Homo sapiens: one gene and its partner. The protein of the gene in region 1 interacts with the protein of each later gene in a pairwise test. Each region holds a gene or a part of one and is shown in the gene's direction. Other genes may lie near its edges. The genes, in order: FAM43A and GTF2H2C.

Region 1 (16,471 bases):
TGATACATGTATACATTGTGTAATAATCAAATCCGAGTATTCAGCATATCCATCACCTCAGTTATCATTTCTTTCTGGTAAGAACATTCAAAATCCTCTCTTCTAGTTATTTTGAAATATACAACACAATATTGTCAACCATAGTCACCCTACTGTCAGCAGACATTTATTGGTGGCTATTATAATGATTAATTTGAGTCCCTGCAATCAAACATTGATTTCTTGCCTGTGCAAGGAAATGTGTAAAAGACCTCTTGCTTTGGTGACACAGGCCACAAGATCCTATGTATTTGAACCCACGAACTTTTTCTCAACTCGTGTTATGTATGGAATATCTAGTGTCTTTTATTCAGAGATGCCTTTGCAATTACTTTTTCCCTCTTGACAGTCAAGTGAAAAAGGGTATTGTTATTTTACTGCACTTTTAGCTGTAGAAGTTGAGTCTCAATAGGGTTAAGTTAAGCAAATAAAGTAAAATAAAGGAGGCTAGAAGTAGAATTAATAATCACCAACTCTAAAATCTGTACATGGAAAGTCCTAGGTTTCTCCCATTCATTCATTCACTCATTCATTCATTCACTCACTCATCCATTCATTCATTCACTCATTCATTCATTCATTCATTCATTCATTCATTCATTGGTTCATTCATCACAGGACTCTGAGGATTCAGCACTGGACGAACTCCCTGCCCTGAAGAGCTTACACTTTAGTGGTGATCAGCCTAATAGAGAGACTCAGCCAGGGTTAAAGAGCTCAAGTCAGGGAGCCATGAACTACACCACCAGGTAGACCTTACTCCATTAAGAGGGCTTCTGACCACCAGGATTTTATGTTTTGTCTCTGAAAGTGATCCATCTCCTTAATTCCCCATAGTAAATATCCTAATACATATATGCATGTAAACCATAGTAAATATCCTAATATATATATGCATGTAAACCTGGATGGTGCTGGAACGCACAACTATGTCGTATGAGGAAAAGGTGATGGAAATGAGACTAGCCTAAGGAGGGAGGCTCCAGGGGTATGTGGGAACCATTTCCATTGATGTGGAGGACTGTCATAGGGAAAGGAGAGAAGACTGTTCTGAGAAGACACAAGGCAAGAACAACCAGAACAAATGGGTAGAAATCACAGGGTTATAATTTGAGGTTCAATTTGTTGGAAACTTCTTACAATCAGAGGGGCTCAAAGACATATTGGACAGCTTAGTAAGGTAGTGAGCTCCCTGCCACCAGAGGCATTCAAGCAAAAACCAGATAATCAGGTGTCAGATGTTCTAAGTCAGGTTCAAGCCTCAAAGTGGGTGTTGGAATAAAGAACTGCTAAGGTACTTAACAGATTCCTGACCCTGGTAGGTTCTCTTCCTTTTTATGCTATCCCTTGCCTCATCCCAGTATTTGAAATCGCAAGGGAACAGTGATGGTCTCAGAAATGGTGCCTAGGTTGGCAAAAGCAGGGTGGTGCCTTCAGCATGTCACATGAGAAAAAGAGTACATCTTGCCCTCATTGTCATGAGATAGTTGAGGGTACCGAGAACCAACATTTAGCAAATTCAGCCATCATTAGTCACAGATACTACTAACACAAATGGAAATGTTAAAAAGAATCAGTTTGAATGAAAGATCCATGGTTTCTGCTTTAAAGTTAATCATGTAGGGGTAACATGTCCCCTCCTTCCATCTTCAGAGGGGACAAACCCATCTTGACTGGTCCCTGCCTTTGGTGGCACTGAGGAGAAGGCTCGTTTGTAAGGCTCATGATTTCATCACTCTTGGCTTCCTTCTAGTGCCCTTGCATTTCTGCCTGGATCTCCAAAGCCTATGTTCTTTGTGTTTGGGTCAGGCGAGGGCCTGACTCCTGATGGCAGGTTGTCCATCAGAACAACTACCTTCTGCATGGACCATTTTCTTCCTCTGGACCGCTCTCTCCTGCCTCTGTCTACGGCAATCTGCCCATCCTTCCATGCTTAGCATGAAGTCCGCTTCCTTCCTAAAGAGGGCCCTGGCCTGGGCACTGTTTGACTACACGTTATTTCTCCTGCAATGGGAAATGGGCTACCAGACTCTCAGAGACCCAAGTGCGAACCTCGTCCAAGGTTCCAAGCAAGCAGCCCATGAAAGGAGAGGCTCCAAGGCAAGGGGCATGGTGAGAACACTTCTGGGAGCTTTGGTCACAGGGTGACCTCCAGAGTTCGTAGACCTCTGACTTGTCTGTTGGTTCTCTCTCACTCCTGCAATTTCCTGTCATGGGCTCTGTTTTGATCTTTTGTCTTTTATATTTATTTATTTATTTATTTTCAGCGCGCTTTGTTGGAAACATGGCTTCTGTTTTGAGTTAATGGTGTCCCTTACAAAGACATGATCAGGCCTGGTGGCTCATGCCTGTATGTAATCCCAGCATTTTGGGAGGCTGAGGTGGGAGGATTACTTGAGCCCAGGAGGTCGAGGTTGTGGTGAGCTATGATAGTGCCACTGCACTCCAGCCTGGGCAACAGAGCGAGACCTAACCCCTAGTACTTGTGGATGTGCTTTTATTTGGAAAAAGGTCTTTTTTTTTGAGATGAGGTTTCACTATGTTGTGCAGGCTTGGTCTCAACCTCCTGGGCTCAAATGACCCTTCTGCCTGGGCCTCCTGAATATTGGGATTACAGGCATGAGCCACTCACTGTACCAGGTTTGGAAAAGGGTGTTTGCAGATGTAATCAAGTGAAGATGAACTCATACTGGATTAGACGGGCCCTAATCCAGTAACTACTGTTTTAGAAAGAGAAACATTTGGCTGCATATGCAGAAGACAAAGAAGGAGAGGCCAGAGGCAGAGACTGGAGCAATATGTCTAAAAAACAAGGAACGCCAAGGATGACAGGCAGCCATCAGAAGGCAGTAAGATGCAAGGAAGGATGCTGCCTTCTCCCAACCTCCAAAATTGTGAGGATACATTGTTGTTGTTTTCAGCCACCTCATTTATGGTAATCTGTTATGGCAGCTGCAGGAAATACCTGCAGCTTTCTTGTGATCTTAGAAATGAATGAGGATTTGCTCAGCTCCCCAATAGGCAGAGAAGGGCAGCAGCGTGCTCCGGGACCCTCGGTGAGTCAGGGCTGGAGGGCGGGGGTCTGGATTCCTTCTTGGCCAATCTTGTGTACCTGAGCCTTGGCTCTGATCGTGGCATGTCCCTGCTCTAGCACCTCCAGTGACTCACCACAGCTTATGAGACGCCTCCTCCTGCCATTCAGGGCCATCAGGAGTCAGGCCCTGGCCTGACCCAAACACAAAGAACACAGGCTTTGGAGATCTTGGGCAAATTTCTTAACTCCTCCAAGCTGTGGTCCTTTCCCCCGGAAAAATGAAGAGACTAGCACAGACCTGACAACACTCTTAGGAGCATGAAATGTTTGGACGGATCTGACTCAGCACAGTGTCTGACATGCGGTAGGGGCTCAGTGCTTTTGCATTCCCTCCTTTTGCCCAGTTGTTGGATGTTCAACACTAACTACCTTCTGCATGGGCCATTTTCTTCCTCTGGACCGCTCTCTCCTGCCTCTGTTGACAGCAATCTGCCCCTCCTTCCATGCTTAGCATGAAGTCCACTTCCTTCCTAAAGAGGGCCCTGGTCTGGGCACTGTTTGACTACAAGTTATTTCTCCTGCAATGGGAAATGGGCTACCAGACTCTCAGAGACCCAAGTGCGATGTCGACCACAACAGAGACCCGTCTCACTGGTGGAGTCCTGTGACAGTCATGCTTGACTCTAACGTCTTTGGGGGCAGTGAGAGCCATTAGCAAAGTGCACTTTTCATTAAGGGGCCCAGCGAGTGGCCACTCAGTCAAGTCACAGAAGTATGTTTGGCTTTCTGCTCCTGTTCAGATCATCAAATGAACCTGTGAGCCCCCAAGCAGCTCTTCCTAGAGGGGGAGCAAACGAAGGACGTGGGTTCTACATACATATATGTGTTTAGAAGCTTTTGGCTTTACGTTTAGCCACAGGAAAGGGCCCTGGATTGAGATTCAGACCACATGGATCCTCATATTGGTGTGGCCACTAAGTTACTGTATGGCCATGCACCTGCGCTGTCAGGGCCTCAGTGTCCTCATTTGTAAAGCCAGGGGAGGTTGACTAGATTATCTCGAAGGGCCTTCCAGACAACGCTCTTCCAGTTCTGACAGTCTGTGCTCATGACAGTCCCATGACTTTGAAAATAAACACATGGTTAATGTTCGTTCTAGAAACACTTGCCATACATTAATTTGGTGGCTGGCATTGTGCTGGAAGTTGGGGATACAAAGAGTGAATAAAATACAGTCACCAGCCATAAGGAGCCCATAGTCTACTGGGGGAGACAGAGAGTTAAAGACGATACTATAGGCCAGGCACGGTGGCTCGCGCCTGTAATCCCAGCATGTTGGGAGGCCGAGGTGGGCAGATCACAAGGTCAGGAGTTCGAGACCAGCCTGGCCTTGGTGAAACCTCGTCTCTACTTAAAAAATACAAAAATTAGCCAGACGCGCTTTTGCGCACCTGTAATCCCAGCTACTCAGGAGGCTGAGGCAGGAGAATCACTTGAACCTAGGAGGCAGAGGTTGCAGCCGGCCGAGATTGTGCCGTTGCACTCCAGCCTGGGCAACAGAGACTCCATCTCAAAAAAAAAAAAAAATTAGCCGGGCATGGTGGTGGGTGCCTGTAATCCCAGCTACTCAAGGGGCTGAGGCAGGAGAATCACTTGAACCTGGCAGGCAGAGGTTGCAGTGAGCCAAGATCACGCACTCCAGCCTGGGCAACACAGCAAGACTCAAAAAAAGACAATATTATAACAGGGCAAGTGCAGAGGTAAGGATGCACACAAGGGCATGTGGAGAGGCGATGAGTAGGCCTAGGCGGTTTACCTGGAGAAAATGGTATCCAAGATGGCTCTGTAAGAATGAGTAAGCCTTGGCCGGGACAAATGGCAGGAGGAGGTCATATCAGTTAGATAGAGCCACATAAGGCATGGCAGGAAGGGAAAAACCACTCTCATGAGCATGGGGAGAAGCATAGGCTATTCTCTGTGGCTGGTTCATAAATTAGGAGTCCAGGAGAAAAGAATGAGGTTGGAGACATAGGCAGGTGCCAGACCTGAACATTCTCATGTGTTATACTGAGGAGTGGGAGTGTACCGTGTGGCTGATGGGAAGCCATTTTGAAGGTTAAAAGGGGAAGAGAGAAAAGGTCAGAGGTGTGGTTTGGTAAGTATTGAAGGTGGCTTTCAGAGGGGCAGGTTGAAGGGAGGAGAGACTTCGGAGCCTGGAGGAGGGAGGTGGGCTTGGGTGTGGACGTGCTTTTTGTAGGTTGGCAGGGGCTGGAGGTTGCTCTAACTGCCTCGTTTTTGTGGGGGAAGCACCCGGTCAGTTCTGCTGAGCTCTGGGGGAGCCAGTGGCTTTGGGAAACTAGTGAGGACTTAGCGTATGTGTTGAGGAGAGTGGGAGAGGGAAGAGAGTCAGGATAAGGGAAAAGATGGCTGGATGGGAGGTGTACTGCTGCTGGAACAAACTGCCACGAACGTAGTGGCCTAAATCAACACAAATTCACAGCGCTGCAGGTTAGAACCCAACACGGGCCTCACTGGGCTAAAACCAAGGTGTCTGATAGCCACCTTAAAGAAGCAAAAAGAAATAGGTAAGTTTTTGTTGTTGTTGTTGTTTTTTGAGACAGACTCTCGCTCTGTCGCCCAGGCAGGAGCGCAGTGGCACAATCTCGGCTCACTGCAACTTCTGCCTCCCAGGTTCAAGTGATTCTCCTGCCTCAGCCTCCCGAATAGCTGGTATTATAGGCATGCACCACTATGCCTAGCTAATGTTTGTATTTTTAGTAGAGACGGGGTTTCACCATGTTGACCAGGCTAGAGAAATAGGTAAAATTAATCTGAATAATTTATTTAAATCAACATAGCCAAAATACTATCATTCAATATATAATGAATATAACATTATGAAGATTTTTTGCATTCTTTTTGTTTTACTAAGTCCTGAAAATCCAGTGTGTAGTTCATACTCGTAGTGCGTCTAAATTTGGGCCAGCTATGGTTCAAGTGGCAGCAGCAGCCTGTGGCTGGTGACTGCGTACTGGGCCGCACAGGCTGCAATGCTCTCCCCCATCTCTTTGCAGGTTCATCTCATTCCTGTCTCTGCCCAGAGCCACCTTCCCTGGCCATGCTGTCTAAACCAGCCACCTCTCACTCCTAGCACTGCCTCCTTTTCTCCAGAGACTTTTCACTATCTGCTATTTCATTAGTTTTTTGTTTACTGTCTGCCCTCCTGCCTCCACCAGAGGCTATAAATCCCATGCAGGCAAAGACCTCTCTATCTGTCCTCTTTAGTGCTATATCCCCAGCAACTATGTGACATTCATGGGAGACTCTCCACAAGTATTTACTAGATGACATTGAAGATTCCAGATTCGTCATGTGTCATCTCTGAAGTCAATGTCCACTGAGTAGGATGTTGGAGGAGGGGCGAGAGGAAGGAGCATTATGTAAGACGTAAGGTGGGAGGAAGCTGGTCCAAATCCTCTGTGAGATGAAAGGCTTACTCCTGGATGTCAAGTTTAGGGCTGGGACTCCTGATGGCAGCATTTCCTTCCAACTGCGACCCGGTTGTGTGTAGTTTCAACCACTAGCTTATCTGGTTTGACGAGAAACCATCCACCGAGCAGCATTTCTGCCTGCTACCAGTAGATGGGGGCAGTGTCATTAAAAAAGTACACTGCAGTTTCTAACCTGTTTCCCAGCTCCACTTTGCTGACAGTCTGTTCTGGAGTTGCCCTGTCTCAGATCTGTGATGTGGACTCCCACATGGTGCTGCCAGCTCTCCCAGCTGAAGAAACGCAGCCTTAATTGTGATGTGTGCTTCAGGTGGGGTGGTCAGCTTCTCCATAAGGTGAGGCGGGCCCTAGAGGCTGGCACAGGTCCAGGCCACAAGGGGACCGCGGGTTCTCCTCCAGGGCATGACTCACACCAGGGTGTTCACACTGGCCTAGAACCTTTCTGTTCTCCCAAGGTTGGAAACAAGCTTATTAGGAAGGCGGTCAAGGCGTGACATAGCCTCGTCAACAGGAGCAGCTCTGTGGGCCTGTGCCGCTGGGACTGGCACTCCGGCTGCTGCTGAACAGCCCGGCCCACCAGTAGACTCCTCCCTGCCTCTGTGGGCCACTGGGGTCCATGCCACTGCATGAAGTGCAAAGTGGTGCCTCTCGCTGAGGCTGAGACCAGCCTTAGCTCCTGCTACTACTCCCTCTTCCTCTTCCCCAAACCCTCTTGAGCCTTGGAACTTTGAGCGATTTGGAAATGATCACTGCTTAAACATGATGTCTGCTTTTGTGGAGTTCAAGATTATGGACCTACTAAAGGTCACTGAACACAGCCTCATTTGATATGTTTTTACCAGAGTTTTTGTTCTTTAGAGCGTGTGCTATCTCCTTCATTGCCACTACAAGATAGCCTAGAAATTTAAGGAATTAATGTTGCCTTAAATGGCTTATTATAGTACTAACTACCTCATTCCAACAGCATGTCTGGTATCCCTCCATTAACCCATCAGTGCAGCTGAGGAGTAAGGCATTATAGCTCTGGTTGAAGGACCCTGTGGGGCCAGTTAGCCATGAAGAGGCCATTCCTTCCCTTGGAGTGTAAGAGAGCCAAAAAACACAATCAGGAAGGTTTATTCTTTGATTGTTACAAGCTCCATCTTAATTACTACATGTGTATGCATTTTCTTTCTTTCTTTCTTTCTTTTTTTTTGAGACGGTCTCACTGTGTCATCCAGGCTGGAGTGCAGTGGCGCGATCTCGGCTTACTGCAACCTCCGCCTCCCGGGTTCAAGGGATTCTCCTGCCTCAACTTCCCAAGTAGCTGGAATTACAGGCGTGCACCACCATGCCCAGCTAATTTTTGTATTTTTAGTAGAGATAGAGTTTTGCCATGTTGGCCAGGCTGGTCTTGAACTCCTGACCTCAAGTGATCCACCCGCCTCAGCCTCCCAAAATGCTGGGATTACAGGCGTGAGCCACCGCGCCTGGCCTTATGCATGCATTTTCATGCTTCTGTAATTTTGCTACCCTCTATACCCATAAAGCCCTTCAGTCTTTTCCTATTTGGATAAATTCTGTTTATCTTTCAAAGGTCACCACCTCCATGAAGCCTTTTCTGATTTTCCTAGTCACAATGAATGCTTTCTTCCTCCAGCTTCTCATAGTGCTTTGAGTCTTTCTCATAGCATTTAGCCCACTCTGTCTTCTTGTCCACATGCATATCTTGCTCATTAATTCTAGTTACTGAGTGCCTATTTGTACCATATTGGGGATACAGGGTACTTGCAGAGAACCCACAGTCCAGTGGAAACCCAGAGTTGGGTAGAGTTTACAACCTTCATTGGACTAGGAGGCAGGAATCCCGTCTGCTCCTAGCTCAGGGCCGGGCACCAAAAGGTAGTCAGAAAAGTAACTTAAATGGAAACTCAGCAAAGTAACTTAAATGGAAACTCAGCATCAACGACTCTGAGAAAATTGAGTTAGATTTCAAAGGAAGGTTAAAAGTTGGCAAAGGTAGAGGGTGGGCAGGGGTCAGTTTTATTTTGTTGGAATATCCCAAGGGAATTTCCAGGTATGGTTGCAGTGACTCTGGCATGAAGACCTGGCGTGGAAGCCAGAGACATCAAAGATCCCCAGGGGACTGGGATGGTGGGAAGGGATCACTGTCCTCCTCCAGGACCAGGCTGGGAGTTTGATGCAGGATCATTCGGACATTGATCCCACTCCAGCCATACGTCTTTTTGCTTTGACTGACCATACCATAGAGGCAAGCAGGCTGTTTCAAGGGCCCAGAAATGAGTTACTGGCTAAGGGTCAAGCCGGTCAGAAGACAACTACACTGTCCAGTTGGCACATGATAAAAGCAATACTGATGCAATTATCACTCCCATTGGAGGGTGGCCTGGCATTATTTGTCACTTAAATAAAAAACGTCATTTGAATTTTTACTAGGAATTCTCATCCAAAATATGTCAATGATAGAATGAAACCGCATGACCGGCTTGCCAAAGTAAACTAAGTCCTAACGACACACGAGCATTAGAAATTGTGTGTATCTCAGAAAACTGCTCTACCCTGAGGCCTGACAGCAGGAGGGGGTCTTGCCGGGGTTCGGACGGGGAAAAGCCTTATTCATTGACGGTATTCTACAGTAGTCACCCCAATCATGTTACCACTCACCTCACTTTACACTGTCTGCTGCTTACCTGTGAATACGAGCTCAAGATAGTGAGAGATAAGCCTTGGTGTTTTCTGTGCCTCTCTCTTTTCTTTAATGGAATACAATTCTGAAAATAATATTAAACAGCACCCAGTCATTCTCAGAAAGCCGTCACACAAGGAAGAAACCACTATTTTCCCAAACTTTTTGTACAGGAAATTATAATCTGTAATCTCATCTTCTGCCACCTCCCTCAGAAGTTTCGATCTAGACATACATGTATTCAGTGAGTGGCAATTCAGCCTGGGGGGTGGAGTGTCAGGATTCAAATCTTTTTGCTGCGGGGTAACCCCAGGTCCCAGTGATTTCCATAGACAAAAGAGATGCTGGTAAATTTGGGATGTAATTGGAGGATTGGACCGGTCTCCCCGCTCCCTCGACCAATGGCTGTCACGCGGTCCCTTTAAGAAACCAGGAATCCGCCCGGAGTCGGAGCCCAAAACAGATCCTCTTCTCTGCTCCTCCCCTGTCCCCGCGCGGCGAATGGTTCGCGCCGGCCTATATTTACCCGAGATCTTCCTCCCGGACGGCAAGGATGTGAGGCAGGCGAGCCGGACGCCGCTCGCAGCACCGGAGAGGGCGCACTGCAAAGGCGGGCAGCAGACCGTGGAGAGCCCGGGAGCGGAGCTGGACACCGCCTCGGAGGGAAGAAATGAGGTAGCGGCGGTTCCCGGACCCGGCCATGCCCGTCCCCTGTTCTCGGAGCCCAGCGCCGTCTCGGCCAGGCCAGCCCGGACACTGAGCGGGCCGAGCGCGAGTCCCCGGCGTCCGGCGGAGCGAAGATGCAGTGAGTCCCCGCGGGACTGCTGCGCGGGGCCCGCCGCGGCCAGCCGGACCCAGCATCCGACCGCACTTTGGGCGAGCTGCTGACTTGAGACCAGCCCAAACGGGGGGCTTTCCATCTCCAGCACCCCTCGGAGGTGGGGAGCACCGGCCCCTAGGCACACTCGCTGTAGAGTTTCCGCGGGTTTTGGCCCCAGTCCTGAGGGTTGTGTGTGTTAGGGGACCCACCTCACGTTCGCCGAGGAGTTCCTGCATATTCTTGCACCATCCCGGGTGCTGTTGCTGGGGCTCTCTTTATTTGCACGCGCGCTTCTAGCTTTTTTCCTGACATTTTCCACTCTACGCTCGTTCTTTCTCCCTTGCATTTTGTTGCTTGCCTGAGACTCTTTGCTCTCGCCCTTGCCCAGGCTGGGGTAATTCTGTGTGCGCGCGTGTCTCCCCCGCACCAACCTTTTTTGCACACTCGAAGCTGAATATTTTCTTTTTTAGAGAATTTACCCGCACCTCCTGCGGGGTTCCTAAGCACTCTCTCTGCTCCCCTCCCCCCAACTCCCTACCACAGGGCCGCTCCCAGTAGTTTTATTCTTCGATCTTGCCCGGGCCGAGCCTGGCAGGGGCCGGTGGCTCAGCGGGCCTCGCACCCGGCGCTCCGCCGCCGCCGCCGCCCAGCTGCGCCGGGGCGCCCTCCGGAGATGCTGCCGTGGAAGAAGCACAAGTTCGAGCTGCTGGCCGAGGCGCCGCCGCGGCAGGCGTCCAAGCCCAAGGGCTACGCTGTGAGCCTGCACTACTCGGCGCTCAGCTCGCTGGCGCGGGCGTGCCCCGAAGGCGCGCTTAGCCGGGTGGGCAGCATGTTCCGCTCCAAGCGCAAGAAGCTGCACATCACTAGCGAGGACCCAACTTACACCGTGCTCTACCTGGGCAATGCCACCACCATCCAGGCGCGCGGCGACGGCTGCACCGACCTTGCTGTGGGCAAGATCTGGAGCAAGAGCGAGGCGGGCCGTCAGGGCACCAAGATGAAGCTGACGGTGAGTGCGCAGGGTATCCGCATGGTGCACGCCGAGGAGCGCGCGCTGCGCCGCCCGGGCCACCTCTACCTGCTGCACCGCGTCACCTACTGCGTGGCCGACGCGCGGCTGCCCAAGGTCTTCGCCTGGGTGTACCGGCACGAGCTGAAGCACAAGGCCGTGATGCTGCGCTGCCACGCCGTGCTGGTGTCCAAGCCCGAAAAGGCGCAGGCCATGGCCCTGCTGCTCTACCAGACGTCGGCCAACGCGCTGGCGGAATTTAAACGCCTCAAGCGGCGGGACGACGCGCGTCACCAGCAGCAGGAGCTGGTGGGCGCACACACCATCCCGCTAGTGCCGCTGCGCAAGCTGCTCCTACACGGACCCTGCTGCTATAAACCGCCGGTGGAGCGCAGCCGCAGCGCGCCCAAGCTTGGCTCCATCACCGAGGACCTGCTCGGCGAACAGCTGGAGCAGGAGCTGCAGGAGGAAGAGGAAGAGGAGCAACCCGAGGGCTGCCCGGAGGAGGAGGAGAACCGTGCGGCAGAGGGAGATCCAGCAGAGGAGGAGGCCGAGGCGCAGCGTGCGCTAGTGGTCGCCATGCACTTTGAGTGCGGGGACTTGTTGGATACTCTGGAGAATGGCCGTGGGGAGGCGCTAGGAGGCGGCGGGGGCTCCCTGGGCCCGGGGGCCGGGCCGCCGCCTCTGCTGCTGGGCAGCGCCTCCGACATGAAGGCTGAGCTGTCGCAACTTATTAGCGACCTGGGCGAGCTCAGCTTCGGCAACGACGTGCGCACCCTGCAGGCCGACTTGCGGGTGACGCGCCTGCTGTCAGGCGACAGCACGGGCAGCGAGAGCTCCATCGAGGGCGGGGGCCCTGACGCCACCTCCGCCACCGCCGGGGACTCGTCCCGCCAGGCCGACGGCGCCAGTGCAGACGAGCCCCACTCGGGCTGAGCTCCTCCGCGCGTCGCCGGCGCTCCACCGTGGCTACCCATCCGTGGTCCCGACAACCTCCCTGTCCCTTGCCCGCCCCCAGGAAGGGGGAAATGGGGCATTTGGGGCCCAGACCTACACTTGGAGCCCAGGTCCAGCGTTCCCCCGACCGCTTTCCCCTACCTCCCGGCCCCCGCTCCCGCCCCAGCACTTTTGGCTCTGTTGCGCGTGGGGATGCGGGGAGATTTGAGAGGGGAAAACCCCGCCAGGAGGGAGAGAGAGGCACCCCTCTGGGATGCGGGTGAGGGAAGGTTGGCTGAAGTTCCTAGTCTCAGGCCGTAGGTGCCTGGCCAGTTTCCTGTTTGTGGGGCAGCTGGGGCCTGAGGAGGAGGGGTTCACTTCCTCCTCCCACCCCCTGGGAGCGGCCCTGCGCTGTCACTGACATCTCATTAAAAAAAAAAAAAAATTTGCTCTCAAGGTGTTTGAGGCTTTAATGCAACCCTTTAGCCCTTGGTTCTTTTTGGTGCAAGAATTCTGGCTGTTTACCTCAGACTCAGACCCCTGAAATGTTGCCAAATTCTTCAAATAACTGTTTGGGGGGTGGGGGGAGATGAAAGAGAGTCGCGTTTTGTTTACAGTTAAAGACATCCAATATCTTAAAAAGGAGTTTTCCTTTAGAAACACACACACCCTTCCTCTTGCTCAAAAGATCTCACTCCATGATACTGTGTAAAATATTTTTGCACTGTTGTGAAGTATTTTTGACTTTTTTCTGTACATAACTGTGTTCTCAGAGCTGAATGTTTATATCTTTTGCTGTGCAAAAGAAACATGTAAAATGTTGTTCAGTTGTATATACAGAAATGTGTATAAAACATTTTGTTATTTTTTAAAAGTAGCACTGTTCTGGTTCTGTTTGCACGCCAGTGGGGAGAGAATAAAGAGGAAAATTTAACAGAACAGGTGAGCGTCTGGAACTGCTGCGTTGGGGTGGGAGAGGCTGTGTCTGACCCTGGGATGGTGTCATAAGACAGTCTTTGGCCTTTCCTGTGCTTGGAGAGAATTAGGGAAGGAAGGTCCACTTTATGCGCCATCTGGGGCCTTCCTGGACCTCCACAACTCTGGGTGCTGTGTCTGGGACCAGCCTTTTCTTGTATTATCCTGTATTTTTCAGTAATTAAGTTGTGTGATCTTTTTCTGGTCTTTTGGAGAGGCCACGGTGAGTTCCATATCGCACTCCCAGACCTGTGAGGTTATTTATGGAGGAGTGACTTCCAGATCTGCTGAGATTTTACTACCTCCTTCTGTGGGCCATGCTAATAATCAAGCGTAAGGAGACTACCTTATCTTTTCCTTTACAAACAGCTCAGGGAGCTTTAAAGATGAACTAGAAACCCAAAGAGGAGTTCTCTGAGGAGTGGGGCCATCTCTGTTTTTCCTGGGAGGAAAACCAAGGAGAGAAAAGTTGACAAGTTCCGATCCTGGTGTGAGTGAGTCACGGTGCAGGTGGGTGGGTGGCTGGGCAGGCTGCAGAGCCCATTTCCTTCCCTTCTACAACCCAGTGTGACCCAGTTGGGGGATGGCGCGAAGGTCGAGGGGGAGAGGAGCTGTTAGAGCGCGGTATGGGTGTGCATGTTTCAGCGCTTTCATGCTTTCTGTGTGTTTGTTTCTGTTGTAAACTCCAAACAGATGTCTCTAGTTTGGCTACACCCGATCAGCTGGAAGTTGTAATAAGATGCTGCCAAAACTGTGCCTTCTGCAAATTATATTTTCCTTTTGCCCCTTGAGGCCTCTCTTCCTGTGTTGCAGAAATGGATCTCACTCCTGGCCTTCCCTGGTGTCCTGAGGCCACTTTGCTTTGTTTTCATCATAAATATGTTCTGAGCAGCTAGACCCAGAAATCCTAAGGAGTCTGGAATTCACTGGAACCATAGAGGAAAGAGGGGTGAAAGATTTTCTTCCTAATTAACAGGAATGGTTCAGGCATAGAACTATCTTTAAAAAAGAAAAGCAAAGGGGGCGAGTGGAAAATATGTGTGTGTGTGTGTGTGTGTGTGTGTGTGTGTATATATATATATATTTTTTTTTTTTTTTTGAGACGGAGTTTCACTCTTGTCACCCAGGCTGGAGTGCAATGGTGCAATCTCAGCTCACCGCAACCTCCACCTCCCGGGTTCAAGCGATTCTCCTGCCTCAGCCTCCCAAGTAGCTGGGATTACAGGCATGCGCCACCACGCCGGGCTAATTTTGTATTTTTAGTAGAGATGGGGTTTCTCCATGTTGGTCAGGCTGGTTTCAAACTCCCGACCTCAGGTGATCTGCCCACCTTAGCCTACCAAAGTGCTGGCATTACAGGCGTGAGCCACTGTACCCAGCTGAGTGGAAAACATTTAAAAAAAATTCAGTCTTAAGGGCCTTAGGACGTCCAGGCCTTTGAATCTATTATATTTTGGCTTGGTTGTGCGTCCCGATCCCTCTCCCTGAATACCTCAGATACACATCATTGAATGACATTAAAAACCCCAGCTAGAGAGAGGTCAGGAAAGTCCAGTCTCAGCCCAGCCACCCATCCCAGCCCTTCCACACCAGTGTGCTCACCTGATAAGCAGACGGCTGTGTGGGCCATCACTAGCCTGCGTGACTAGATTTCACATTTGAAATTATTCCCATGCATAGCCAAGTTCCTCTGCTGTTTGAAACTGATGAAGAGATGAGACAGAGTGAAGATAATATGGCTAATACTTGGGAGACAGGGCAGGGTCTGTGTGTCTTCATTCTTATCTAGTTTAAGTGTCCTGTGAGAATGCCAATGTTGGCTTTCATCTGTGACTGACAGGCATGTGGTGGTTGGTCCAAAAGTTCAGGCAAATAGTGTTGAAACCAACACCATCAATAAATATAAAGCAGCCATCTCTTTAAAGTCTGATATTTCCTCTCATGTGATTTATAAATAGGAAGGGGGGCTTGAAGGTTGAGGAGGAGGAAGAAGAAAATAAGCAGGCTGGAAAGAGCCAGCTCCCTTCCTCCTCCGTCTGTGCCCTCCCCATCTCTCCTTCCTCCCCTCTGCTTTTTGGCATCGATCCCCACTGCACCTCAGAGCTCTGACTGATGTAATTCTAGAAGAGATGTGAAGGTGACACGTGATTCACCTCTTCTGACTTCTCAGTCTTCCAGGGATGATATCACTAGAGTAAGAAGAGATGTTTTGAATGAAAATAAAAGAAAGACCCTAAAACTACTTTGCTCCTGGAGCTCAGAGGGAAAAGAATGGAGCGACAAAAGCAAAGCTAAGTCATTAGATAAAATACACCTTCCAGAAAACACCTGAAGTCTGGTTTACTCATCAAATTTAGCTTTTCTTTCCTGCAAAGTGAGGCTCATGTTTCTCCATGACTTAACCTGATGGTACTTTAAATGCACTGAGACACTTTCCACGTTCTTTCCCAGCCTAGGTAATCCTCCGTGTTCAACAATGCAGCATCGACTGCATGAAAAACAGGGTGACTCCCGGCGGCACGCGGTCCTCCAGGGGTGGCAGCGTGAGTCTGGGAGGAGGCATTCATCGACTCCTCACAGCACAAACATCCCATGTTCACTTCTACCATTTGTCGCATATGTAAGCAGGAAGGTGGGAGGAATAAAATGGCATAAAATAAACAATAGTATTTCATACCCTCCCAACTATGACAGCTTCAGAGAACCCCCTCCACACACACGTGTGTGGACACACATGGTTTCCCTAAAGAAACACCTCTCACTGCCCCACAGTCAGCAGAACAGATTTTAACCAAATTAGAAAGGCTCTGTTATACTAAGAAAGCACAATTCCCTCCCAGGGGACAGAGCTGTTTTTGAGGGTTCTGCTTGTGAGTAGAGAGAGAACTGGTTGGAAGAATCTACCCCTGGCACCATACTGGAGATTTAAAAATCTCATTGTAGTTGCCAAGGATCACGAGAAACATAGAAATTCTATTAGGAGCAAGTTGCCGTCTTTTTAAACAGGATTTAGTAATTTAATAAGCAGAACTCTTTCCTCTGTGTGGTATGCATCAGTAGTCCCAGCATCTGCTGCTAAGTGATGCATGACAGAGCTAGAAATGTGCACGGACTGCTGGGGTAGGAGCCATGACTGACACATGGGGAACTACTCAGGGCTCCAGGCAGCCAGGAGGGTGCTAGGCCCAGGGCGCTCTGCACTCTCTGCTCCAGGCTTGTTGCACATGTCCACTGTCTTAGTCCGTTTCGTGTTGCTATAAAGAATACCTGAGGCTGGGTAATTTATTTATATTTATTGATTTATTTATTTTGAGACAGAGTTTCACTCTTGTTGCCCAGGCTAGAGTGCAATAGCATGACCTTGGCTCACCACAACCTCCATCTCCCGGGTTCAAGCGATTCTCCTGCCTCAGCCTCCCGAGTAGCTGGGAATATAGGTGCCCTCCACCTCACCCGGCTAATT
Region 2 (15,503 bases), on another chromosome or scaffold:
CAGGCATGATAGCTCATGCCTGTAATCTCAACATTTTGGTAGGCCAAGGCAGGAGAATCACTTGAGGCCAGAAGTTTGAGATCAGTCTGGTTAACATAGTGAGACCTGTCTCTATTTATATGTTAAAATAATAATAATAGTAATAATAATCAATTGTAATTATAGTTATTCCTAGAGAAGTTGATTTAGATATATTACTTAAATAAGGTTTTAAAAGTGATAATTTAGCTAAAATCATTATTTTAAAAATGTACATTTTCAGATGATACAACTTTTACAGAATTACATAGAACGTACAGTTCGTTATGTCTATGAAGGTGTTTTTTTTTCCCTTTTCATCTTGTTAGGCACGTACCATGTTATTTTAGATGAAAGCCATTACAAAGAGTTGCTCACACATCATCTTAGTCCTCCTCCTGCTAGCTCAAGTTCTGAATGCTCACTTATTCGTATGGGTAAGTGTTTTTATGTTTTTAAAAAATACATATCTAGGCTCTCTATTTTCATTTGCACAAGTTATTTTAATATTTAAGAATTTTTAAAGAAAAAATATGCTTGTTGAAGCAATTTTGGAAAGTACAGAGAAGTGGAAAAAAAAAATTAAAACTACCAGTAGTCCTGTCACCCAGAAAATACTGTTGGCTTTCTTTATTTTTAAGGCTAGAAAGGTATAAACTGTGTTTATAGAAAAATACTTATATTAAGCCGGGCTCGGTGGCTCACACCTGTAATCCCAGCACTTTGGGAGGCCGAGGTGGGCGGATCTTGAGGTCAGGAGATCGAGACCATCCTGGCTAACACGGTGAAACCCCATCTCTACTAAAAATACAAAAAATTAGCCAGGCGTGGTGGCGGGCGCCTGTAATCCCAGCTCCTCGGGAGGCTGAGGCAGGAGAATGGCATGAACCCGGGAGGCAGAGCTGGCAATGAGCCGAGATCACACCACTGCACTCTAGCCTGGGCGACAGAGCGAGACTCTGTCTCAAAAAAGAAAACAAAAGAAAAACACTTATATTAAAAATTTTTTAAAATAAGCTACAAAGGCCGGGCGTGGTGGCTCATGCCTGTAATCCTAGCACTTTGGGAGGCCGAGGCTAGCGGATCACCTGAGGTCAGGAGTTTGAGACCACCCTAGCCAACATGGCGAAACCCTGTCTCTACTAAAAATTACCAAAAAATGGCTGGGCATGGTGGCAGACATCTGTAATCCCAGCTACTCAGGAGGTTGAGACAGGAGAATTGCCTGAACTCAGGAAACGGAGGTTGCCATGAGCTGAGATTGCGCCACTGCACTCCAGTCTGGGTGACAGAGCAAGACTCTGTCTCAAAAAAATAAAATAAAATAAAAATAAAATAAGCTACAAAATTCTCTGTACTGGATGATCAAAGCTGTGTAATACAAACTGTGCAAAGACAAAGCTTGCAGGGAAGTACACCAAATTGCTCAAAGGAGGGGAAATTATTGGTTTTGGATCACTTTTTTTTTTCTTTTTTTTTTTGAGATGGAGTCTCATTCTATTTCCTAGGCTGGAAGTGCAGTGGTGCGATCTCAGCTCACACTGCAACCTCCGCTTCCCAGGTTCAAGCAATTCTCCTGCCTCAGCCTCCCGAGTAGCTGGGATTACAGGCGGGCACCACCATGCCCAGCTAATTTTTGTATTTTTAGTAGAGACGGGGTTTCACCATGTTGGCCAGGCTTGTCTTGAACTTCTGACCTCATGATCCGCCCGCCTCGGCCTCCCAGAGTGCTGGGATTACAGGCTTGAGCCACTGTGCCCGGCCTTGGATCACTTTTTTAAAATGTTATTTTCTTCTATTTTACAAAAATGTTACAATGAAAATTTATTACATTTAGATTGAAAAAAGTATAACTTTTAATAGAAAAATAATCTCCTTATTTAATATGTATGTTTTTAAATGTTAATGAAATAAAATGCTTTTCTACTTTTGGCCTTTTATATTACCAGTCGACCTCTCTTTTCCACGGTCTTCTCATGTGTTTAATGATGTCAGTAACTATCAACCTTATTGTGTGTTTCAAGGATTGAGTTAATACAGATGATGCGTTTAGAATAATGCTTGATGTAAACATTCAATATATTTTAGATCTTATGTTTGGCTAATCTTTTTGATTTACTGATATATTTTCTTATTTCATTTTAAAGTTATTTAAATTTATAATTTATTTATTAGAGTCCTTTAGGAATGTTAACCCTTCTCAGTCACCCGATGCAAATATTTTTCTTGTTGGTTATTTGCCTTTACTTTTATTTATTTGTTTTGATATGTAGATACATTTACATTTTTTATGTAATATATCTTTTTAAAAATGGTTTCTGCTTTTCCTGAACATGTTTTCAGAATTTAAAATTGTATATGGAAAACAAATTACATGAAAGATTTGAGCATTTCAAAATTTTAAACATAAAAGCATAAACGTAGATAAAATGAAGGTGTACTATGATATCTTCAGTTTTATCAGAAATGATGTAAAAATTACAACCTCTTTAAAAAGTAGTGTTAATCATTAAGTTAGAAAATATATAGCTGGGCATGGTGGCAGATGCCTGTAATCCCAGCTACATGGGAAGGTGAGGTGGGAGAATCGCTTGAACCCAGGCAGTGGAGGATGCAGTGAGCCAAGATCATGCCACTGCACCCCAGCCTGGGTGACAGAACAAGACTCCATCTCAAGAAAAAAAAAAAAGAAAAATATATATATGAACTTCAGAATCTGAGGTCATATATAGACAGGTCTTTCCCCCGTTTCCTCTACTTTTTCTTGTAGCTTGGAATTAGTCAGTTTCATCATGCTATAATAAGCTTATCTGAAAGGCAGTAAAGTGATATTTTGTACAACTTCATTGGCTTTTTGAGAAGAACATTTTTAGGTTCTTAGTCCTAGAATTCTGCTGTTTGCTTGGAAAAAGAAAGTAATACATTTTCTTCTATGAAGGATTTCCTCAGCACACCATTGCTTCTTTATCTGACCAGGATGCAAAACCCTCTTTCAGCATGGCGTAAGTAAAGACCTTGAAAATATCAGTAATAATGTTTTTACATTTTTAATTCCTTCTTTTAAGTTATAAATTCAAAAGATAGGCAATGAAGACTATCTCTATATACTTGTATGGAGTGATCTTCAGGATAAATTACTAAGTAAAACAGTAGTTTGAGAGAATTTTGTAGTATGCTGCTAATCACCTAAGAAGAAAGTAGAGATGTAAGTGGATGTATATACTTGTTTATGTTAATAATAAAAACAATAGTATGGAAATAATAAAAACTTAAAAGGGGTGGAGGGGGAAATTTTTTTTTTTAATGTTTACCTCAGTGAGTGTGTAGGGAAAAGCAAAGGGTTAGACCCTAGACTTTTCTGAATGCATCACTTAATGATAGGGACACATTCTGAGAAATGCGTCATTAGGTGATACCATCATTGTGCAAACATCACAGAGTGCACTTACACAAACCTAGATAGTGTAGCCTACTAACATCGCAGTTATATAGTATAGCCTATTGCTCCTAGGCCGCACACCTGTACAGCATATTGTGTACTGAATAATGTAGGCAGTTGTAATGTAACACCTAGTGTTTGTTTAACTAAACACAGAAAAGGTACAACTAAAATGTATTATTTTATGGGACCACTGTCATATATGTGGTTCATCACTGACCAAAATGTTATATAGAATATTACTGTACCTTGTTTTAACTTCAGAGCTTTGTATTTTACATAATTATAAAACAAAATTAAATTTAAGAGAGTAATTCTTAAAAATCACAAACAAGATTTCTGCCTCCAGCCAAAAAGCTGTAACAGGGACTAGATTTACCCTCCTGTCAAAAAAAGCAGACAAAATATATAAAACAGTGGTTTTCAGACGTTGGACAGCAAGCCTTGCTGATAATGATCCCTGAAAGAAAGGAAACAAATGAGATGGGCCCTAAGAGCACTCCACCTTACTGCCTGGATGGAATTTCCAGGCTGCACACAGAGGCTGGAGATGTTGTTGAGTTGAAGAAACAAAGTTCATCTTTCAAGGAGGCTGAGATGGCGATAATTTTGCAGGTCAGAGTACTGGAGAGGAAAGATCTGCACAGAGAGAACTCTCTGGGGAGCTGCATAGACTTGCTCATGAGTCAGCAGCTGAGCGTTGATCAGCCCTTTTGTGTGAGGAGACTACTGGAAGTCAGGGAAAAAATCACTGGAAAGCAGCAGACAGAACAGTTTCCAGAGCTCACACAGAGAACATTCATGTTCTCACCAGTCTGTATGGAAATACCTCTTAACATGACAGGCATTGAATAGAGTCCACAGTAATGGGATCAAATTAATTCTATCACAAGAACTGGAACCAGAGGCAAAAAGAAAAGAAAAGAAAAGAAAAATCTAGACTAACAGCTGTTCTAGACCAGCCTACCAAAGTTTAAAAGCAAATTTTGAAGAGATTAAACTATTTCCAAGTTAATGAAGTATATTTCAGAACAAACCCTTAAATATTTGAGGGAATACAAAAAAAAAGAAAAAGAAAAAATCCAGCCCCCAAAACAAAGCAAAATTCACAATGTCTGGCAAAGCAAAATTCATAGTCCCTGGCAGAAATTACCAGGGATGCAAAGGAAAATATGACCCATAAAATGGAGAAAAATCACAGAATGGAAACATACCCAGAAATAACCCAGTTGGTAGAATTAATAGACAAAGGGTTGGGTGCGGTAGCTCATGCCTGTAATGCTAGCACTTTGGGAGGCTCAGGTGGGCAGATCACTTGAGCCCAGGAGTTCGAGATCAGCACAGCCAACATGGCGAAACCCATCTCTACTAAAAACACAAAAATTAGCCAGGCCTGGTGGCACACGCCTGTAATCCCAGCTACTTGGGAGGCTGAGGTACAAGAATGACTTGAACCCAGGAGGTAAAGGTTGCAGCGAGCTGAGATCGTGCCATTTCACTACAGCCTGGGTGACAGAGCGAGACTCTTATCAAAAAAGAAAAAAAAGAATTAGTAGACAAAGATGTTAGGACAACAATTATAAATGTACTCTGTATGTTCAGGATGTTAGAGAACATGAGAATGGTAAGAAGAGATATGGAAGGTATAAAAAAGACCCAAATCAAACTTCTAGTGATGAAGAATACAGTGTTTTAGATGAAAAATATATTGGCTGGGATTAACAGCAGATTAGACACTGCAGAAGAAAAAATTAGTGAATTCAAAGATAGTAATAGAGACTTTAAAAATGAAGAGAAGGGCTGGGTGTAGTGGCTCACATCTGTAATCCCAGCACTTTGGGAGGCCGAGGCAGGCAGATCACTTGAGACCAGGAGTTTGAGACCAGCCTGGCCAACATGATGAAACCCCATCTCTACTAAAAATACAAAAATTAGCTGGGTGTGGTAGCACGTGCCTGTAATCCCAGCTACTCAGGAAGCCAAGGCACGAGAATTGCTTGAACCTGGGAGGCGGAGATTGTAGTGAGTTGAGATTGTGCCACTGCACTCCAGCTTGGGCAACAGAGTGAGAATCCGTCTCAAAAAAAAAAAAAAAAAAATGAAGAGGGGGAAAAAAATGAATGTAGCATAATTGAGTTATAAGACATACTCACAGATTTTAAAATAGACTTTTAGACCAGGCATGGTGGCTCACACCTATAATCCCAGCACTTTGGGAAGCTAAGGCAGGTGGATCACTTGAGGCTAGGAATTCAAGACCAGCAATATAGTGAGAGACCCCCATCTCTACAAAAAGTTATAAATTTTTTTTTTAAATATAGACTTCTTTTGTTTTTTTTTTGAGATGGAGTTTCACTCTTGGCACCCGGGCTGGAGTGCAGTGGTGCAATCTCAGCTCACTGCAACCTCTGCCTCCTGGGTTCAAGCAATTCTACTTCAGCCTCCCAAGTAGCTGGGATTACAGGCGCCTGGCTAATTTTTGTATTTTTTAGTAGAGATGGGGCTTCACCGTGTTGGCCAGGCTGGTCTTGAACTCCTGACCTCAGGTGATCCACCCGCCTTGGCCTCCCAAAGTGCTGGGATTACAGGTGTGAGCCTCTGCGCCCGGCCAAAAATACAGACTTTTAAATAGATTTTTAAATAGTGTCAAGATTTTAAGGTCAAGATAGCATGCTTTCCCGCTCTAACTTTTCAGATCATTATATATTACCCTTTTTCCCCCTACAGGCATTTGGATGGCAATACTGAGCCAGGGCTTACATTAGGAGGCTATTTCTGCCCACAGTGTCGGGCAAAGTACTGTGAGCTACCTGTTGAATGTAAAATCTGTGGTAAGAAAACAACTATTCATTATTCAGTAAATCTTGAATGACTTCTTAATCTGTATTGCTGCTAAAATTAATGTAAATGTTAAGTTATTCCTATGTTTCTGGATTTAATCTGTGCAAAGAAAAATAGATTACTTTTTAAATTGAGTGCCCAGTACTCCACTTCCACGTATAAATGTAGCATTCTAGTTTCCTGATCCTCTTTCTGAAAAAAGTATATTCTTTAAAGGCAGTGCAGTAGATGTAGTAGACATTTTTCCATCTCTTACCTTTATAAAGTAAATATATATAAGAATGAAGAATTAAACTAATAGAATTGTCGAATTTTATTTCATTTATAATATAAGTAAGCAAATAGACCGAGACAGGTTGGTTACACACTTAGTGACAGAACTAAGACTCCATCCTACAATCTTCTGTTATAGCCACAGGTAAAATTAATAACTGCCATCCTAAAAGAAACTGAACATATTCTGCTGAAGTTACATCTTTTGGCTTTTCAGCCGTTGTCTTCATGAGGTTTGGACTACTCAACATGTCTCTCTGCTTAATGTGTTAGGTCTTACTTTGGTGTCTGCTCCCCACTTGGCACGGTCTTACCATCATTTGTTTCCTTTGGATGCTTTTCAAGAAATTCCCCTAGAAGAATATAATGGAGAAAGGTATTTCAGTTTGGACTAATTTATATCTGTTATAAGTGGTAAGCTAATGTTTGAATAGATTGTTACTACCTTAAAAAATAATCTGATTAACTTGGACAAGAGTACTTCTAATATGGAAGATGAGATAAAGAATGCCATAGTTATGATTGAAATGACTCGTTGCTAAATAGATCTGAATCTCCAGAAACCAAATAATTTCACTAAACCCACCTATGTATAAATAGGGGTGATGATTGTACTACTAAATCAGTTTTCCAGAAGGAAAAGAAAAAAAGCCCTGATTGGTAGTATTTGCTGATTTCCATGGTTTGAATACTCCCACCATGGCCAATTTTTAGCTACAATTAACAACCAGCTTTCTTGAATACATATTTAACAATATATCCTTTTGATCCAGTACAATCCAGTCCTAGCACACTACTGAAAATAAGAGGCTCATTCAGCACTTTGGGAGGCTGAGGTGGGAGGATCACTTGAGGCCAGGAGTTGAAGACTAGCTGGGGCAACATAGTGAGACACTGTCTCTTAAAAAAGAAAAAAAAAGCTGGACATGGTGGCTCATACCTGTAATCCCAGCACTTTTGGAGGCCAAGGCAGGCAGATCACCTGAGGTCAGGAGTTCAACACCAGCCTGAATGACATGGAGAAACCCCATCTCTACTAAAAATACAAAATTAGCCTAGTATGGTGGTGCATACCTGTAATCCCAGCTACTCGGGAGGCTGAGGCAGGAGAATCGCTTGAACTCGAGAGGCAGAGGTTGCGGTGAGCCAAGATCGCACCACTGCACTCCAGCCTGGGTAACAAGAGCGAAACTTCGTCTCAAAAAAAAAAAAATCTGGCATAACATAATTTATCTAAAATCTTTAAGTATTTTTACGAATGCTATTTGTGTGAAATACAACAAATAAGGTCTGAAATAGAGGTAGTCAATCCTTTAGAGAATAGTTTTCAGAAAATAAAGATTTACTACTTTTAAGAACATCTAGGATCGGCTGGCACGGTGGCTGACGCCTGTAATCCCAGCACTTTGGGAGACCGAGGCAGGTGGGTCACCTGAGGTCAGCAGTTCGAGACCAGCCTGGTCAACATGGTGAAACACCGTCTCTACTAACAATATAAAAATTAGCCGGGTGTGGTGGGAGGTGCCTGTAATCCCCAGCTACTCAGGAGGCTGAGGCAGGAGAATCCCTTGAACCTGGGAGGTGGAGGTTGCAGTGAGCCAAGATCACACCATTGCACTCCAGCTGGGCGACAAGAGCGAAACTCCATCAAAAAAAAAAAGAACATCCAGGATTTAGGAATCACATTAAACACTTACTGGCTAGCCAAAAACAATTATGTATCCATCTTGCTTTTCACACTTAAGTCATTTAGAAGTCATTCAATATCACCATATCTAGATCAATGTTGTTTTTGAAATTGTTGCATATTTCAGGTATAATTATGGTTTATATAATCAATTGCTTCCTGTTGGATATTTAAGATTTTCTTTTTTTGCTATTAACAAATAATGCTTATATCTATATTTTTGAACATTTGTACAAGTATAAATGCATGGTAAATTCCTAGAGGTAAAATTACTGAGTCAAGAGTTTTACATGTTTTGTGAATTTTGATAGATATTGTAAAGTTGTTCTTCAAAGAAGTTTCATTTATTGTTTTCCCACATTTAGCCAACATTAGGTATTATGAAACTTTTTTATATTGGCCAAAACTCACAGGCAAAAGAAAAAGAAAAAAGTCTCATTGTTTTAGCTTGGTATTTATTTGCTTATGGTTGAGGTTAAATGTAGTAAAAATGAAAAACCCAGTACTATAGAAGATAGAGTTGAAGAAATATTCCAGAAAGTACAATAAAAGGAGTAAAATAAAGAGGTTCAAATAGGAGAGTAAAGATAAGAATACTGGTGGAATTATCCAGAAGGTCCAATATGAGAATGATACGAGAAAAAAAGAAAAAAAGTAGGATAGAAAATCATCAAAGACATAGTTCAAAGAAATTTTATATTGAAGGACAGAACTTTCTAGATTGAAAGGGCCTGTTGGCTGGGAAGGGTGGCTCATAGCTCTAATCCTTGCACTTTGGGAGGCTGAGACTGGGGGATAACTGGAGGCCAGGAGTTCCAGGCCAGCCTGGGTCACACAGCAAGACCTCATCTCTGCAACGAAGATAAAAGAAAGGGACTGCCAAGTGCCTAACGTATTGAAGGAAGGCAGACCCCATAATTGTGAAATTTCAGAATACACAATAAACCATTAACCCTAAACATTTCCAGAGAGGAAAAACTAGGTCACACACAAAGGATCTGGAATTAAAATTGTTTGGCTTCTCATTAGCAACACCGGATGCAGAGAGGGAGCAGTCACCTTCAAAGTTTGTGGTGAAAATTGTTACCAACTTAGATACCCAGCCAAACTATCAGTTAAGTGTAGGTAGAATAAAGACATTTTCAGACTTGTAAGGTCTCAAAAAGAGATTTTTCTGGGGAAGGTCTGGAAGAGGTAGGTGATTCAAAGGAACTGAGAAGGAGAATGACATGGGATCTAGTAATATGTATCTAATTCAAAACAGGCTGAAGAACGGCCTAGGATGATGGTAAGGAGAAATTCCAGAATGATACCTGTGTGTCACATATGGGGAACCGTCCAGTTTGGAGACAGTCAGGATGCTCCAGGAGAGAGATCACCAAGGGGATGAAAACTGCAGAACTCCTGATGTATTTGAACATATCGAGAGGACAGTTAGACTATTCCGGAGAAGATTGGGCCTGAATTAGTGTCAATTATATAGGAAACTAACCTTGGGAATAGCAACACAGTATTTCCAGGAAAAAAAAAATGTTTTAAATAGGGGAAAACTTATGGCTTAGCTGAGAATATTTTTATAGGCATAGTAAACTAAACATTGATTATTGTTCTATCCAAAAGGAAGACTTCACTATGTAGAAAGAATTGAGAATGACACTAGTTAAATATTTATGCATTACTGGGTTCAAGATGATTGAAAGATAATTAAATTCTCTTCTTTCATAGTTGGAGATTTATAGCCAATAACTGTGAAGAATCACAAAGTAGCACTTATTAGAATAAGTGACTATCAAACAAACGTTAGAAAGTGCTTCTGGCTGGGCATGGTGGCTCATGCCTGTAATCCTAACACTTTGGGAAGCCAAGATAGGAGGATTGCTTGAGCCCAGGCATTCGAGACCAGCCTGGGCAATATAGCGAGACCCTGCCTCAATAAAAAATTAGCCAGGCATGGAGATACATGCCTGTAGTCCCAGCTACTCAGGAGGCTGAGGCAGGAGGATCACTTGAGCCCAGGAGGTTGAGGCTGCAGTGAGCTGTGATAGCACCTCAGCACTCCAGCCTTTGAGACAAAGCAAGACCCTGACTCGAAAACAAAGAAAAATAAAGCATGCTCACAGTTAACCTTAATGAAAATAAAAACTAAATTTTGGGCTGTCAGATGACCTTGTATATACTGTGGAATTTTTTTTTAAATTATTGCTATTCTTTTTTTTTTTTTTTTTTTTTTTTGTGAGTCAGAGTTTTGCTCCCGTTGCTCAGTGTGGAGTGCAATGACACCATCTCGGCTCACTGCAACCTCCGTGTCCTGGGTTCAAGCGATTCTCCTGCGTCAGCCTCCTGAGTAGCTGGGATTATAGGCGCCTGCCATCACGCCCAGCTAATTTTTGTATTTTTAGTAGAGACGGGGTTTCGCCACGTTGGCCAGGCTGGTCACGAACTCCTGACCTGAGGTGATCCACCCGCCTCGGCCTCCCAAAGTGCTGGGATTATAGGCGTGAGCCACTGTGCCTGGCCTATTGGTATTCTTAACTCTTTTTCCTGAAAGTCATGTGTAAAGACAAGTACATATTAATTAAAGGATTCTAGTTAGTGAGATTTTGTTGAACTATTTTAATGAGTAAATTCTAAGAAAAAACATTGTTAAACTTTTTTTTCAGATTTTGTTATGGATGTCAGGGGGAATTGAAAGACCAACATGTAAGTTCTTTGGCTTTCTAAATATTAAGTAATGTACAAGAAATATTGAAATCAATGGTACTATAAGTTTTCAACAGGTTGTTAAAGACCAGGCTCATATCAGTTTATTTCTTGTAAAGATAATGACAATAGGTGAAGGTAAAATAGGAACAAAATAGTTTAAATAGTAGTTTTGTTATTCTGCATTCTAATTTTTGCTATAAAGTATTTTGTAATTCATCTTTTTAAAACTTTTTATTAAAAATTTTTTAATTTTTTTCCTCTTTTTTTAAATTCTTTGATTGTTTTGTCTACTTTGGTACACCCTTGTAAAACATGTAATTTGTCTTTAGCTTTCAAGCTAAACTGCATTTAGTCTGAAAGTATTTAAAATATTTTCTTCATATTATACTTTAAGCTGTGTGATAACACATTGAAATTGTTTAAGGTGGCCACAGATAATAGGTGATTCTTCCATTATGCCAATGAGAAAATACTTTTTTAAATTTTGAAGAGGGCCAACTTTAATAAATAAATTTGTATAGATGTAAATAATATGGATCACTGTCTAGCTTTAATTTTTAATTTAGTTACATGTTCATATTTAAAACTATATATATTATATAAAATAATAATTAGAAGTATTGCTCTTCCACTGTCACAATTTATAAAGTAATTTTATTAAATTTTATATACCTCTTTGACATCAGTAGTTTACTCTTAACTGGAACCACTTTTTGAATCATTTGACAGTTTTTTGGTTTTATTTTCTGAGACAGACTCTTGCTCTGTCACCCAGGTTGTAGTGCAGTGATGCAATCTTGGCTCACTGCAACCTCTGCCTCCCAAGTTCAAGTGATTCTCATGCCTAGCCTCCCAAGCAGCTGGGATTATAGGCGTGCACCACCATGCCCAGCCAATTTTTGTATTTTTAGTAGAGACTGGGTTTCACCATGTTGACCAGCTGGTCCTGAACTCCTGGGCTCAAGCAATCCACCCGCCTTGGCCTCCCAAAGTGCTGGGATTACAGGCGTGAGTCACTACACCCGGCCTCATTTGAGTTTTTAAGAATAGGTCATTGTCTGTGTTGTTTGAAATTTATTTATTCATTCTTTTTTTTTTTTTTTATTCAAAGCCAAATACTTCTGAGATTTAGTGATTTTTGAATCTGTGTATGAAGCTGCCCTGGAAATTTTATCCCAAGGAGCAAGTACTCATATATGTAATGCTGAAAGAACAAATGTAGTTTTTTCCTTTCTGCTTGTCTTATCTGTGTCATTTGACATATTTTTTTAAAGGTTTACTTGAAAGGGAAATATGTTTGCAATTGTGAGGTCATTCCCTAAGAATAATTAAATCGATGTTAAATTTTTATGCTTCTCTTTTTAATTGAATCAATCAGGTGGTCTTGCTAAGCATTCAAAAGTAGCGCTGGTTTGAAGCTCATATGTCTTTCCTAAACCTTAGAATGAAATAATTGAGAGCGAACTGTAATAGAATAGACTTTAAAGACTCAAAAACAAAACCATTCCCTCATTTCTAAGGGATAGTTTTGGGGAAAAAATTAATTGCCTTAGATTTGAGAATATAGAGTACATTGGAAGTAATAAAGTAGGTAGTGGGAAAAAATTGGTAGAGATATAAAAGAGCAAAGCACACCTTGAATGTCATCTAGCTGTGCTGTAATTAACTTTTGGAAACTAGTTTATCACTTTTCTTCTTTTCACTACAGGTTTATGTTTGTGCTGTGTGCCAAAATGTTTTCTGTGTGGACTGTGATGTTTTTGTTCATGATTCTCTACACTGTTGCCCTGGCTGTATTCATAAGATTCCAGCTCCTTCAGGTGTTTGATTCCAGCATGTAGTATACATTGTATGTGTTAAAAAGAAATTTGCAACTGTGAATAAAAGGACTTCTTTAGAAGAAGCTTCATTTAAAACATGAAAGGATAATCTGACTTAAGAAACTTTTTGCTAAGAAAAGGTAATATTTTATTAAATTTTAAATTTGTGTTGTCACAGAAATACCTGAAATTCAGTAGTACTTCATTCAATTAATTTTGTTTTCTATTATTTTGAGTTATACTGTTTTCAAAGTCATTATGCAGTATGTATAAACTTATAAGAATTAAATTGATGTGATAATTTTATGTTTTTATAATTAAATATAGAATCTTTATGATTTATGTTAATTCATTAATTTAGTGTAAGAAGAAAGTTAAGTCTGAATGTAAATTCAGTGTAAGATGAAAATTTATCAATACTTATGAAATTAGGCTGGGCGCTGTGGCTCACACCTGTAATCCCAACACTTTGGGAGGCTGAGGTGGGCAGATCACTTGAGGTCAGGAGTTCGAGACCAGCCTGGCCAACATGGTGAAACCCCGTCACTACTAAAAATACAAAAAATAATTAGCCGGGCATGGTGGTTCACGCCTGGAGTCCCAGCTACTTGGGAGGCTGAGGCAGGAGAATCGCTTGAACCCAGGAGGCGGAGGTTGCAGTGAGCCGAGATTGTGCCACTGCACTCCACCCTAGAGTAAGACTCCCTCTCAAAAAAAAAAAAAGTTATGAAATTAATACATATGAAATGATGTACTGCTACATCCACCAGAGAGGTCTTTTTAGGTTTAACCAAACATCTGGAATATGTTTATCAAGTTAGTACATCTGAAATTATTTGTGGCTATGACCAACAGAAGTCACTTTACATTAAACATTCAAACTCACAAGACTGCCATGGCCATACTTGGTACCCGCTTACTCAGAAGGATATTAAACAGAAACAACAGCCTGCCAGCACAGCATCAAGCAGTCCTCATTAGCAGTGGAAGTCCTTGTAGCAGTCCACTAGTACAATTTGGGTGCAAGGAGATAAGATCCTCCACAGGCATCAAGGAACCAATATCTCTTAACAATTCCATAAACACAGCTTCCAGGTATCCACAAGGGATGTGTCAATTTCAAGAGTCACTACACTCAGGAAAGCCTAAAGCTTGAAGACTCCATTTATTTATAGTGCATCCCAATCCAGATACGTAACAATTAACGAGTTATTTTTACTATAAGCAAAGTTGCCTAAAATCATAGTTGATACTAACCATGGTTAACAGAGCTCTAAAGTTTGACAGAAAGTGAGATTCAAATCCTTTCACTCTCATATGCTAAACCTTTTGCCTTACTCTGGGTCATCAGAGAAATTTAGGTGAGAATGTATGATGAAGTCTGTGTTTTAGATTCAATGCAGATATATCATTGTGGGCAGAACTCTTTCTGGTTATATCCAGTTAAGAGTAAATCAGGCTTTCAGCCGGGCGCGGTGGCTCACGCCTGTAATCCTAGCACTTTGGGAGGCCGAGGCGGGCAGATCACGAGGTCAGGAGATCGAGACCATCCTGGCTAACACGGTGAAACCCCGTCTCTACTAAACATACAAAAAATTAGCTGGGCCTGGTGGCGGGCGCCTGTAGTCCCAGCTATTCGGAAGGCTGGGGCAGGAGAATGGTGTGAACCCAGGAGGCGGAGCTTGCAGTGAACCGAGATCGCTCCACTGCACTCCAGCCTGGGCGACAGAGCTAGACTCTGTCTCAAGAAAAAAAAAAAAAAAAAAAAAAAAAAGAGTAAATCAGGCTTTCATAGCAAAGGTATGTCTATTTTATGTATATAAACTTCAGGTACTCTAACTTGAGTTTCACTATGAAATTTGTGATTTTTTTTTTTTTTTTTTTGAGATGGAGTCTTGCTCCATCGCCCAGGCTGGAGTGCAGTGGCCTGCTGTTGGCTCACTGCAACCTCCGCCTCCCAGGCTCAAGCCATTCTCCTGTCTCAGCCTCCTGAGTAGCTGGGACTACAGGCGCCTGCCACCACGCCTGGCTAATTTTTGCATTTTTGGTAGAGACGGGGTTTCACCTTGTTGATCAGGCTGATCTCCAACTCCTGACCTCAGGTCATCCACCCACCTCCGCCACCGTGCCCGGCCGAAATTTGTGATTTTATAACTAAGAATTTTTAGTTAAGAACATTATCAGTAAAGACAACGTAATCCCACCCTGGAGAGTTTATTGGGAGCCCAGGAATATTCATTTTTAATACACACACACACACACACACACACACACACACACACACACACTGATCAGAGTAACGGGAGTTTCTCTCAGGAGTCATACTCCATGAGCCTGGACCCAGTGGTTCTTTATGTGGAAACAAATTTCACCTATAGGTAACCTGGTAACTGCTATTTTCTTCTGTGTGCTCTGTCAACAAAGGTATCAGTGGCTTGCAGGAGATGCCTTTAATACTCAGAGCATTCTATCTCCCCCTATCTGGTTTAGAAGGAAGGCCTTCATTAGTTACCTTTTGAGAAGTTACTAGAACTCTCTATTAGAGACTTACCCTCCTGACCTGATAAAAAGGGATACCCATGTCTCTATTAACAGCTTTATCTCTTTCTACAGTTTTGGGTATTTGATAAGGTTAAGGCAAAATTTTAGTTATGCTTAAGGAGGAGTTCTTTTTTCACAATTACAGAGAAAATTTTGGTTTGTTGAAGATTGCAGAAACAGC

Evidence for each region.
Region 2: the proteins of FAM43A (region 1) and GTF2H2C interact in binary tests that used the Homo sapiens proteins (3 or more experiments, as listed by UniProt).

Annotation. Positions count from the first base shown.
Region 1 is NC_000003.12:194,676,066-194,692,536, forward strand, and holds FAM43A (protein FAM43A), read left to right. Parts: upstream 1-10,188; 5' UTR 10,189-10,761; coding exon 10,762-12,033; 3' UTR 12,034-12,972; downstream 12,973-16,471. Other genes in the region: uncharacterized protein LOC124909474, read right to left, coding at 9,273-9,353, 9,795-10,188.
Region 2 is NC_000005.10:69,579,410-69,594,912, forward strand, and holds part of GTF2H2C (general transcription factor IIH subunit 2-like protein), read left to right. Parts: intron 1-347; coding exon 348-455; intron 456-2,956; coding exon 2,957-3,020; intron 3,021-6,184; coding exon 6,185-6,288; intron 6,289-6,844; coding exon 6,845-6,947; intron 6,948-10,918; coding exon 10,919-10,958; intron 10,959-12,669; coding exon 12,670-12,789; coding exon of another isoform or gene 12,790-12,802; 3' UTR 12,803-15,503. UniProt on the Homo sapiens protein: Component of the core-TFIIH basal transcription factor involved in nucleotide excision repair (NER) of DNA and, when complexed to CAK, in RNA transcription by RNA polymerase II.